Linked DNA regions of Homo sapiens: region 2 is linked to region 1. The links come from fine-mapping of genetic effects on gene expression. Tissue or cell type: thyroid. Region 1 holds a variant in brackets; the other region holds the start of a gene. All regions are shown on one strand. Distances are between the middles of the regions.

What was found. PIP is the estimated chance that this variant, and not a neighbour inherited with it, causes the effect.
Region 2: FHAD1 starts here. The variant in region 1 is fine-mapped to the expression of FHAD1 in thyroid (GTEx, PIP above 0.99).

What each region holds. Positions count from the first base shown.
Region 1 is chr1:15,342,515-15,348,436 of GRCh38, forward strand. It overlaps FHAD1 (forkhead associated phosphopeptide binding domain 1), which reads left to right. Exons shown (of 34, transcript NM_001391957.1): 17 at 2,569-2,676; 18 at 2,902-3,009. It overlaps FHAD1-AS1 (FHAD1 antisense RNA 1), which reads right to left and starts at 1,369. Exons shown (of 2, transcript NR_148919.1): 1 at 1,262-1,369. RefSeq lists an enhancer at 3,279-3,478. The variant G/A (reference allele first, on the strand shown) is at 2,473.
Region 2 is chr1:15,244,168-15,250,089 of GRCh38, forward strand. FHAD1 (forkhead associated phosphopeptide binding domain 1) reads left to right here and starts at 3,056. Exons shown (of 34, transcript NM_001391957.1): 1 at 3,056-3,228. RefSeq lists silencers at 2,891-3,064, 3,082-3,321.

The sequences.
Region 1 (5,922 bases):
AAAGTTTCCTGATAAGAACCATCCAGATGCTTTGCTAAAAATGCAGATCTTGGTCTCCACCCTCCAGACCCATTAAATCAGAACATCTGGAGAGGGCCAGGAAACTGTATTATTTAATGAGCTGATTCTCATCACTGTCCTAGAGTTGGCCCTTTTTTTTCTTAAGATGGGGTCTTGCTCTGTTGCCCAGGCTGGAGTGCAATAGTGTGACCATAGCTCACCACAGCCTCGAACTCCCAGGCTGCAGTGGTCCTCCCACCTCAGCCTCCCAAGTAGCTGGGACCACAGGCATATGGCACTACACCCAGCTAATTATTATTTTTTTTTGTAGAGATGGGATCTTGCAATGTTGCCCAGGCTGGTCTTGAACTCCTGGGCTCAAGTGACCCTCCCACCTCAGTCTCTCAAGTAGCTGGGACCACAGGCACACACCACCACACCCAGCTAATATTTTTATTTTTTGTAGAAATGAGGTCTCTCTCTATGTTGCCCAGGCTGGTCTCAGACTCCTGGCATCAAGTGATCCTCCCACCTCAGCCTCCAAAAGTTCTGGGATTACAGGTATGAGCCACCATACCTGAGGGTTGGCCCTTTTTGATATTCAGGGACCCCTCCCATGAATTTCACTGTCTTTATGACTTTTGTCATTTAGGAGATTAAAAATTACTAATGCCTTGCACCTCTCCCCGCCGACTCTCCACATTCTGATCTTAGTGGGGTGAGGGTGTGGCCCCTGCTGTGGGATTTCTAAGCACTCCCGGGTGGTCGCAAAGTGCAGCCACGGTTGCGAGCCACTGTTGTGGGTGGGTGTGGAGCAGCGTGTGCATGCTGCCCCTCCTCACAGCCCCCTCAAGACAGCAGCCCCCCAGATCCACCGGACCCCAACTCTTCCCAGATATCTCCTCTCTTCCCCGGAAGAGTACTGGACCTGCCCCCTTCTCCATCTTTCCCCAGCTCCTTCTCTACCACACACACCTGCCCTCCAGACCTCTCCCTCTTTCATCTCCATCCTCACATGTGTGTCCAGTTACCCCAAAACATCAGTCTCCTCCTCCTTCTTCTCTTTGCCTCTTTCTCTGCTTTTCTGCATTTGCGAAATAAAAGATTAAAAAAGAAGAGCCATCTGACCAAATCATGTGCAATCCGCATAAAGGTAATATTAATGATAGCTATAAATCAAGATGGGCACATTTTGAAGGGCATTTAGATACGGAAAAAGCCAGCACCGTTCCATAGAGAAGAAAATAAAACCAGAAAGTACCTAGAAATCTTCAAAATCTTCGCAGAACTCTCCACCGACTTCCTTTTTTCTTCTCTGATTACCTTCTCCTTTTAACATCGGCATCCCAAATGCCTTATTTTCTCTTTTTAATTTTGGATGGACTTTTTCCCTTGTCAGGGTTTGGTATTTCAGCCCCACCATGTTAAACACTGCGTTGGGCGCCTGCCTAGTCTTCCTAGACAACCCTGGCGACACTGGCCTGGCAGAGTGTTTTAAGAGCTGGCGTCAGCCCCTCTTTTAAACCTGAAAACCTCGGTGCACCCTACCCTCCTTGCAGAGGGAGGAAGCAACATCAGGTCCCTGCCAGACAGACTGTGACACTCGAAGGTCGCCCTTCCTCTGATACTCGGATTGATGGACTTGACCCTGGGGACTCCTTGGAAAGTTACCTCTTGGACTTCAGTGCCAAGTGTCCTGACTAAATGAGCCTTCCTTAGACCTTCTGACTCCCATCACCTGCCCTTTCCGAAAATACATGTGTCCAGGGTCATTAATCTCATGAATCTTGACTTGTTTGAGGACTTTGTTTCAAAGGGAAAAAAAATTCTATGTTCCTTTATCAATCTAACATTCTTTTCTTATTGCCAGTTGTTGACAACAATCCCTTGGTTTGTGCACACACCAATGGGTTAGATCAGGGATTGGCCAAATTGTCCCATAAAGAGCCAGATAGTAAATATTTTCAGTTTTGCAGGTCATATGCTCTCTGCTCTTCTGCAAAAGCAGCCATAGACAATACACAGCAAGCACAGTGTTCCAATAAAACTTTATTTACAAAAACAGACCAGATTTGGTCTGTAAGCCATAGTTTGCTAACCTCTGGTTTAGAACACAGGCTTCAGAATCAAATGGGTCAGAGTTAGAATCCCTCCTCTTGTGATTTACTAGTAAACTGGGTGGATTCTTGAATGTAAGCCTGTTTCCTCCTCTGCAAGGTGGGAAGCATGGTTATCACTGTGCCAAGCATTTCGTGTTCATCGTCGCATCCACCCCTCACATCAACCCAACACAGGAAGACTATTACTGTCTCCGTTGTACAGGCAGGGAAACTGAGGCTCTGGTAGCTTCACTTCCCCAGTGCCTTACAGCTGGAAAGGATCAACCTGGGGCTCTACCCTGGGTCTCCTGACTCCAGAGCACATGCTCTGAGCTCCTAGGCTCTGCTGCCCACAGCCTCCCCAGGGGAGTGC[G/A]GTGAGGAGTGAAGAGGTAGCACATGCAGTGCCTGGCAGCGTCCAAATTCCTGCCATGGTAACCATGTCTGTTAAACAATGGTCATTGGTTTCCAGGCTTTGGAGGAGTACATTACTCAAGAGAGAAACAGAGCGAAAGAGACTTTAGAGGAAGAACGGAAGAGAATGCAAGAACTGGAGAGCCTCCTGGCCCAGCAGAAGAAGGTATGTGGCTCAGGGAGACAGAGTCAGCTCGAGCCCCACTGCAGCTAGGAAGGGTGGATCTGGGGCTCTGGTCTGGGCCCGCCGGCTCTGAGCTCCAGGGCTGTGCTGTCCACAGTCCCCTAGGGAGGTGTAGTCTGGAGGGAAGAGGAAACCTGTGCGGTGCCTGGCAGAGTCCAGTTTCCTCCCATGGTAACCATGTCTATTGAACAATGATCGTTGACTCAGGCTTTGGCGAAAAGCATTACCCAGGAGAAGAACAGAGTGAAGGAAGCATTAGAGGAAGAGCAGACAAGAGTCCAAGAGCTGGAGGAACGCTTGGCCCGCCAGAAGGAGGTACGCTCGGGGAGATAGAGTCGGCTGAGCCCCAGTCGGCTTGAGGGCCATGTGGAAGGAAGTTCAGAGCGGCGATGATGGGGGTGAGATCGTGGTGGAGCCTTCCTCGTGGAGTTTGCGTTTGGGTGGGCTCAGCTACTTTGGGAAGCGTGGGAGACTCAAGGAGGGAACCCTGGAGTTGTAGCCTTGACAACCAGTTGGGAAAAAATTGTAAACAGTGTAAAACACAGTCAGAGAGAGAGAGCGCTTGGGAGACAAGTAGGAATGGTGACATGGGCGTCTTCTGTGTTCCAAAGCACAGAAACGGGAGAATGACAGAGTCATGGGACCTCAGGGCTGCGTGGACCCTCCACCAGCATCCTAAAAGCCTCCAGCCTTCAGCACCACCACTAAGGAATGTTCTCCACCCCAGGACAGTCCGTCCCAGCATGGATGCCTCAGGCCGACAGAAAGTTTTCCCTTTAGGTTGAGTTGTGTCAAACTCTTACGCCCCGGAGGAGTATCAGTCCTCCGCCCTCCCCTGCGCTCCCACAAGATACATCTACTTCCTCTTCCACATGATGACTCAGATGTGTGAAAACAGGGGCGCCCGCACCCTGTGTCTGCTCCTCCCCGGGCCCAAGCGCCCTTGTTCCTCAGGTCCCTCACAGGACTAGAGCCTGGCCCTGGCTGCCTCCTGTGGCCTGTGCTGCTCTCCAGAAGTCACAGACTGGTAGCTCAGCGACTAAAAAGGGCCTGTGGAAGTTATATTTGGCCCCGGAATATTTTACTTTGAATTCATAAAATCTATTTAAAAGTTCAGATTTCCAGCCTCTCCCGAAAAGTCAGAAAATCTAGCCCTTGTTTCTACTTAGCAAAAATGGACTAGAAGCCTTACCGGGTAGCAGCAGTTTGCCAGAGTCCTCACCACTCCCCGTTGCATTAAACACAGCCCACGTCATTTTTGGTATCTGTCCGGGCTTCATAGGCATTGAGTTTGTCACCCATCACCCATTTTCTTCCTAAAGGGAGGTGGCCAGAACCACTGTTCTCCAGCCACGGTAGCCTAGGGGAGGACTCCTCCCTCCCGCATTGAAGATATTCTACTTCTGTTAATGCATCCAAACTAGCTTTTGGGAAAGCTCTGTCACATTTGTGGATTCATGTTTAGCTTGTGGTCACCCTCAGATCCCTGATCCTTTTTCACATCTGCTTTCATGAATTCCTCAATCCTGACACAGCACAGAGGAGTGCGGGCTTTGCAGCCAGATGAGACACAAGTTCAAATCCGAGCTGGGCTACTTCCTGGCTGCAGCAGACCTACCGCTGCCTCCCTTCTCGAAGGGGCGGCTGTGGGCTCAGATCTAGTGTATAATGGAGGGCCTGGCCTGCGGAATGATTGCCGAGTAAACGGCAGCTGTTACTACTGTCTCTGCTGCCACTTGTGCCTCTTCTTCTGTTTGGGCATTTGTTTTTCTTCAACACTGACTCCTTGAGTAAAATCCTTGCCCACCCACTGCTGCAGGAGAAACAAAAAGACCTCTGGGCAAAGCCTGTGCCATTTGATCTGACCCAGGACAGAGAGACGTTTACATGTCGGTTCTCCCTTGGCGTCTCTGGCACAGGTGTGCCCTGCAGCCCTCTCACAGAGCGTCACTGAGGTTTGCCCCCAAGTGATTTCTCCAGGGGTGGGGATGAGGAGGAGGGTCTCCAAAGAGTTACTTGAGTCAAATGCCCCAAGATGTCAACAGCAAAAGCCTGGGGAAGATTCTTGAATTTAGAGACTTTGAGGCCACGGGGCTCAGGAGATAAATTCAAGCTTCATTGCAGAGGATCTGTGGTTGGGTCACCCCGCGTCTGTTAAAATGTCAGCCTACTTCTGACAGAACTTCTCTGTGGCTTCCTATCGGGGGAATTTGAAAGAGCAGCCCCAGCCACAGGCTCCATTCAACTGCCAGTGGCTATTTGATTTTCTTTTTTTCTGTCTCCCAGGCTGGAGTGCAGCGGCATGATCTTGGTTCACTGCAACCTCTGCCTCCCGGGTTCAAACGATTCTCATGCCTCAGCCTCCCAAGTAGCTGGGACTACAGGTGCACCACCATGCCTGGCTAATTTTTTGTATTTCTAGTACAGACGGGGTTTCACCACGTTGGCCAGGCTGCTCTTGAACTCCTGGCCTCAAGTGATCTGCCTGCCTTGGCCTCCCAAAGTGCTGGGATTACAGGCGTGAGCCACCGCTCCCGGCCTGATTTTCTTTTCATTAGATCTTCCGCCACATCATCAGGGTTTTTAAGGTCAACAGAATCACTAGGTCATAATCTGGGTCTTGAGGTCATGTTCAAAGTTAATCCCCATTATCTGTTGTGAACTTGGAAGCACAGCAACTGAGCATGTAGGGCCTGTGTGTGAGCCAGGCAAGGCCTCTCTTACCAATAGTACCTGTCCCGACTGCAGAGAAGCCACCCAGAGGAAGGCCTGGCGAGTGTAGACGCAGAGTCAGACACAGCAGAGCCAACCCTAAGTCCCTAGGAAGTGCCTCAAAGTCTCTTTTACAATTCACAGGAAAATGTCCTACCCTGAAACCCACTTCAAAGGATCCAAATAAACGTGAAATTCTTATGATGTCACTTTTCTTCTGCTTTAAGGCTGGTGTTGGGACAGCAGAGTGTTAGAGTTTTGTCAACTACTTTTCACTGCAAAGTATACAATATCTCAGCCATATTCTGGATTAAACACTTTTTACAGGCTCATCTGGGGCCCTAACCAGTGGTTATAATGGAAACCATGTTCCAAGTTCTAAATGCCTGACAGTGAACCTCGTGTTTGAAAGACAAGCCGTTAGAAAATAGAGGTGGCCCTTCTCATGGTGACTGGAAACAGGCTGGCAGTGTATTTCCTTTGGTGATTTGCATTAAGCTGTTTAGTTGAATAGCT
Region 2 (5,922 bases), 98 kb before region 1:
ATTTTCTGTTTTTGAAATGAAAATGGATGATACGGAATTGGGTTTCAAGAACTTTGCACACCCTTGAGATAACAGTGGCATCCTGAGGGACAGAGGATCCAATTAAGATTTGGCAACTTCGGCTCCACTGATTCTGAGTGTCAGCTTTGCTCTCAGTTTAGGATTTTTTGTTTTTCATTGAGATATCAGCTAACAGCAACAGATGATCTCTCAAAGCCTGGTGAGGGGCATGGGCTGTTCCAGCTCATGGCCAGCCTGGGTTTCACTGGGGTCTGTCTGATAGCAAGTTTGTGTCCTGGGTTCATGTTAATGACAAGAGTTTGACCAAAGACAAGCATGGAGGGGTGGTGGTAGGGATGGAGGTGGTGTTCAGGCCTGGGCAGGGGACTAGAGAAGCCGACATCCTGGGGCGAGGACAGGTCAGCCCAGCAGTCCTCAGAGGACAGGAGGCCGGGCTTCAGAAGGGTGGCAGGGGCTTCCCCCTGCATATTTATTCATTCAGACATTGTTCTAGGGACTGGTGGCACAGCAGCAAACAAAACATGAAAAAAGAAATTCCTGCTTTCATGGAGTTTAGATTCTACCAGGGGTCAGGGAGGGAGACACAATAAATAACATAAATAAATAAAGAAATAGTATGTGAGTTGATGATAAGTGATGTATTAGTCCATTTGTGTTGCTATCAAGTAATACCTGAGGCTGTGTCATTTATCCAGAAAAGAGGTTTATTTGGCTCACAGTTCTGCAGGTTGTACAAGAAGCATGGTGCCAGCATCTGCCTCTGGTGAGGGTCTCAGGCTGCTTCCACTCCTGGCAGAAAGTAGCGCCTGCATGTGCAGAGATCACATGATGAGAGAGGAAGTGAGAGTGAGCGAGGGGGAGGTGCCAGGCTCTTTCTAACAATCAGCTCTTTAGGAAACTGATAGAGTGAGAACTCATGCACCCTACAGGAACAGCACCAAGCCATCCATGAGGGATTCGCCCGCATGATCCAAGCACCTCCCGCCAGGCCCCACCTCCAACACTGAGGAGCAAATTTCAACATGAGATTTGGAGGGGTCAAATATTCTAACTATAGCAAGTGGCAAAAAGAAGGGAAGAGGGATAGAGTGTTGAGGTTTTTATTTTGTTTGGATGTGCTTTTGTTGTTCTTATTTTTATTTGCTTTTGTTGTTCTTATTTTTATTTGCTTTTGCTGTTCTTATTGTTTTTATTTGCTCTTTTTTGTTGTTTATTAGATTTCATGGTGGTTGTTTCATTGTTTCAAAAAACCAATTTTAGAAAAGATGATATGTGAGTAAAAAGCTAAAGTAAAGAAGGCAAAGGAGACTCTTGAGGGGAAGTGCATTCCAGGCAGAGGAATGGGCAAGAGCAAAGGCTCTGAGGCAGAAACGTGTGGGAAGCTGAGCTTGACCCTCTCTGTTCCTGTGAAGCCATCACTTGGGTCCCAGCCCTTGTGGTCCCTCCTAACATTTTACGCCTAGAATCTTTCTGGTTGTAGGAAACTGATCCAGGCAGAACCTTCCAGACTGAGGGCCTGGAAGAGATTTGTAGGGACAGGCTCCGGGAGAGGTCTCTGCAGTTCAGCTGCATAAATCAGGGTTTTGTCAAGCTTGTTGCAAATGCACATTCCTGGATTATGTCCCAGGCCTGCTAAATCAGAATCTCTGGGGTCTGTGCCCAGAAGTCCGCATTTCTAAAAGCCTCCAGGCACGTTTGAGCATCTTCACTGTATATTCCACCACAAATCGATGTCCATGATTTCTCTCTCAGATCCTCTTCCTATTGACTAGGTGTATTAGTCTGTTCTCACACTGCTATAAAGTAATTCCTTGAGACTGAATAATTTACAAAGAAAAGAAGTTTAATTGACTCACAGTTCTGCACTGCTAGGGAGGCCTCAGGAAACTTACAGTTATGGCGGAAGGCCAAGGGGAAGCAAGGAAGCTAGCATGTTGTAACATGGTGTAGCAGGAGAGAGAGAGAGCAAAGGGGGAAGTGCCACACTTTTAAACCATCAGATCTCATGAGAACTCACTCGCTATCATGAGAAAAGCAAGCGGGAAGTCTGCCCCCATGATTCAATCACCTCCCACCAGGCCCCTCTTCCAACACGTGGGGAGTGCAATTCGAGATGAAATTTGGGTGGGGACACACAGCCAAACCGTATCACTAGGGTAGAATGTGCCATAGTTCATCTCTCTTAGAAAAACGTTTAGAGTTTTTCTTGAGGTGTCTGGTCAGCCATTTCCTGCCAGTGAAAGGAATCACTCTCCAGGTAGAGTCAGCAGGAGATAGGATTTCCTGCTGGAGATAGTGGCGGGAGATAGGATTTGCACATCTGCTCAACACACTCCATCCCGCGAGTCCTGTGCCGGCTGACAAGCGGTTTCTTAAGGACAGTAACTGTTCCAGGTGTATTCTGGGATCAGCGTGTGACACTCATAGGACTCAAAAGATGTTTGCAGAGATAGAGAAAGGGCAAAAGAATGAATAAATGTCACTCTTAACAGGGAGGAGCAGAGGCAGCAGGATTGTGAGTTTGGAAATATTTTTTCCCCAGCACATGGAAGAAATCCTCATTCTTTCAAAATTTTTCATTCCACCCCATCCCTTTCCCAATCCCCACCCCACTCCCAGAGATCCCCTCTTCTTACTCTTTCTATTTTCTGGCCTGTAACGGAAAGGACTAGAGATTTGGGTAGGGCAGGGGGCATACTAACCTCCAAGGGTCTCATGAGTTCAGCTCCATCAATCTCCTACCTCTCCCTATCGCCCCCGACCCTCCCTCAACGCATCCAGCTTACAGTGAGGGGTAATGGAAAGGATTCTTGAATCAAATCTCCTCCCTGCTCCTTCCTCGCTGTAAAACCTTGGGCCATTTCTGTGACCTCTGAGCCTCCGCTTTCCTATCTGTGAAATGGGGCAGGCTCGTGGGGCCTGGAGCATTCAGCAGGCGGTAACCCAGTGGGCGTTCCCTGCACGGTGCCACGCCCCCTCTGCCGCGCAGGCCACGCCCTCATCTATTAGGCTGGACCCCGCGGCGCCTGGCGGCGTTGCCATGGCAACGCGCGTACACAGGCCGGCCGGGCGGGCGGGGTGCCGGGTGCGAGCTGGAGACTCCGCGGGAGCGCGGCCGGGAGGCTTCGCCCCGGAGCTGGCCCGACGCCTCCCGAGCTGGCAGGGCTCTCGGCGGAGGTCGGAGCGTGGGCTTCCTCCTCCCGCCAGGTGAGTGCGGCGCGGGAAGGGGTGGCGGGCCGAGACCGGGGACCGGAAGGGGCGGCCCAGCGAGGACTAGCCCTGGCAGGAGGAGGGGTGGCTCCCCGGCCCCATCCTCCTGGATCCAGGCTCCGGTCCCCAGGAGCACCCCAGTAGCTACCCCAACACCAGCCCCTCCTTTCCAGATGCAGGCCCCACCCCGCCCGCGGAGGAAGCCCCCGGGAGCCTTAGACCCTCCTTGGCACCAGCCATGCCACTCTGGGAAGTCCTGGGGGTTACAGCTGGGATTAGGAGGGGCATCCCTGCTGCCCCTGACTTACGAACGACACCCACCCGGCGGTCAGAGAGACTCCCCCCTTGCCTAACCTCTCCCTTCCCAAATACAACACTGAGGAATTTCTAGGGCTCCCAGGCCACTTAAGATCTGGTAACCCCTCAACAGAAATTTTGCTTCTCTATCTCACTTGTGACCTATAAGCAGGGAGTGCAGATGCCTGAAGCTCTTTTGCTCTTTTGCATGGTCGGTGCCCTGTGTCTTAGAACTAATTTACAGAGTTTAACGCATCTAATCACTTTCTACAGTGTTTTCAGGTAGGAAAGTGACTGCACAGGGCAAGATTAAAGTGGGGAAATAGGGCCCAACCCATTCAGCTAAAGAAATAGACTTTTTTTTTTTTTTCCAGAATGTCATCTAGGATAAATACTGAAGGGGAAAATGAAAGGTAGTTACTGTCAGAGGTTCTTAGGCTACCCTGACTTACTTTTAAGCATTGTTTTGTACTTTCATTCATTCATGATTTACTGAGCACCACTATGTGTCAGGCATGGCAGCGCTGGGGGCCAGAGGGGAGTAATGAACAGACTGTGAGGAAATGCAAAGGGTCTGAGATTTTTACACTACTTGCAAGCTAAGTTAGCCTGCCACTGCTTAATGATGCTAGCAGAAGACCAGAGACTCCAGGACCAGAGACAAAGGATGTTATTACTCACAGCACAGCAGGCACTGTGAGCTCATGTTTGCGTTGGTTCCCCTTGCCCTGCAAGTACCCCGGGGTGATGCAGGACAGCTCAGGTGGATGCTGTGCACACTGCGAGTCTGTTTCCCAGCTAAGGAACCCCAAGCTCAGGAAACTCCAGTCTTTTAAAAGGGGCTGCTAGCCAGTGCCCAACCTTTGCCCTGGAAGGAGATGACCTTTTTTTTTTTTTTTTAATTGAGACAGAGTCTTGCTCTGTCTCCCAAGCTAGATAGAGTGCAGTGGCACAATCTCAGCTCACTGCAACCTCTGCTGCACGGTTTCAAGTGATTCTCCTGCCTCAGACTTCCGATTAGCTGGGACTACAGGTGCAAGCCACCATGCCCGGCTAATTTTTTTGTGTTTTTAGTAGAGACAGGGTTTCGCCATGTTGGCCAGGCTGGTCTCAAACTCCTGACCTCAGGTGATCCGTCCACCTGGGCCTCCCAAAGTGCTAGGATTACAGGCATGAGCCACCGTGCCCAGCCAGAGATGACATTTTTATCATAAATCTGCACTCTGCCCTGGATAGGGACACTATCCCTATCCTCTCAGGATATTTGCCCTACAGATGTCCTTGGAAGATTGTCTGGAACAAAATCTGTCAGTGTCTTTGCTCTGAAGATGGGTACAAACACAGGAAACCCATGGAGAATTGAGTTTAACAAAAACAACACAGTTTGGGCTCTCTTGGAACGTATCTCAGTGAAAGGGAAACAGTAAACAGCTAAGTAAAGAACAAGAAAATGACAGAGAATGATAAGCTCAAGGAAGGAGCCACAGCAGTGACACATGCTAGCTAGACAACAAAGTGACTGGTGACGCCTTTAGCTGGGGTGGTCAGGTAGCTACCGCAAGGCACCAGCTGTGGAAACATCGGGGGGAAGAGCTAAAAAAAAAAAAAAAGCCAGTCATTCAGATTTGGGGTTTTACTCTGGAGGCATTTCCTGTGGCTTTCCCACAAAAGAGACATTTCTCGAAAGTTGACTTTAGATTACTTTTACTTTAGTTTGGATGTGGTGCTTGATGATGTAGTCCTCTGCAATTGAAGATTAATAACTCAGGCAATTTGAGGGCAACAGGGCATGGTTCTTTTGGAAAAAGAAGTGTCTTTTTATCCCTATTAAAGACAGCAGACTTAAAAATAAAATTCTCATTATATGAAAGTATTAATATTTCTGAGGATTTCTCATAGGCTTCGGAATTTACAAACATAAACTATCTGGCTTGTTTTTATTTCTCTTACTCCCAAGGGTCTTTTCTTTTTTTGCAGAGGATAGAATTCTGGTGTTAAGGGCTATCTGTTATTTCATGTCCTAAGTGTCAACAAAACAGTGACAACCCCACTATCCCAAGTGACAACCTCTCCCTCCCCCCACTCAGTCACTCTCTCTGCTCCCCCATCCCATCCCCTCCCCACCCAGCAGTGATGGAGGTGTGAAAAGTTGAGCTGCCTGAGGATTATGTAGTGGTGACATGCAATGGCAATCTCCCTGCCCGAATGCTAGGGGACCTTAACCTCTCTGCATCTCAGTCTCCTTTTCTGTAAAGTAGGGACAATAATGACACCCACCTTGCAGGGTTTCTCTGAGGATGAAAAGAGTATATTCAAGGAAAAGTGCCTGGCACTTACTAAGGACTCCATAAATGATGATAGAGATGATGATGAAAAGCAGAGCCAGCCCCGAGA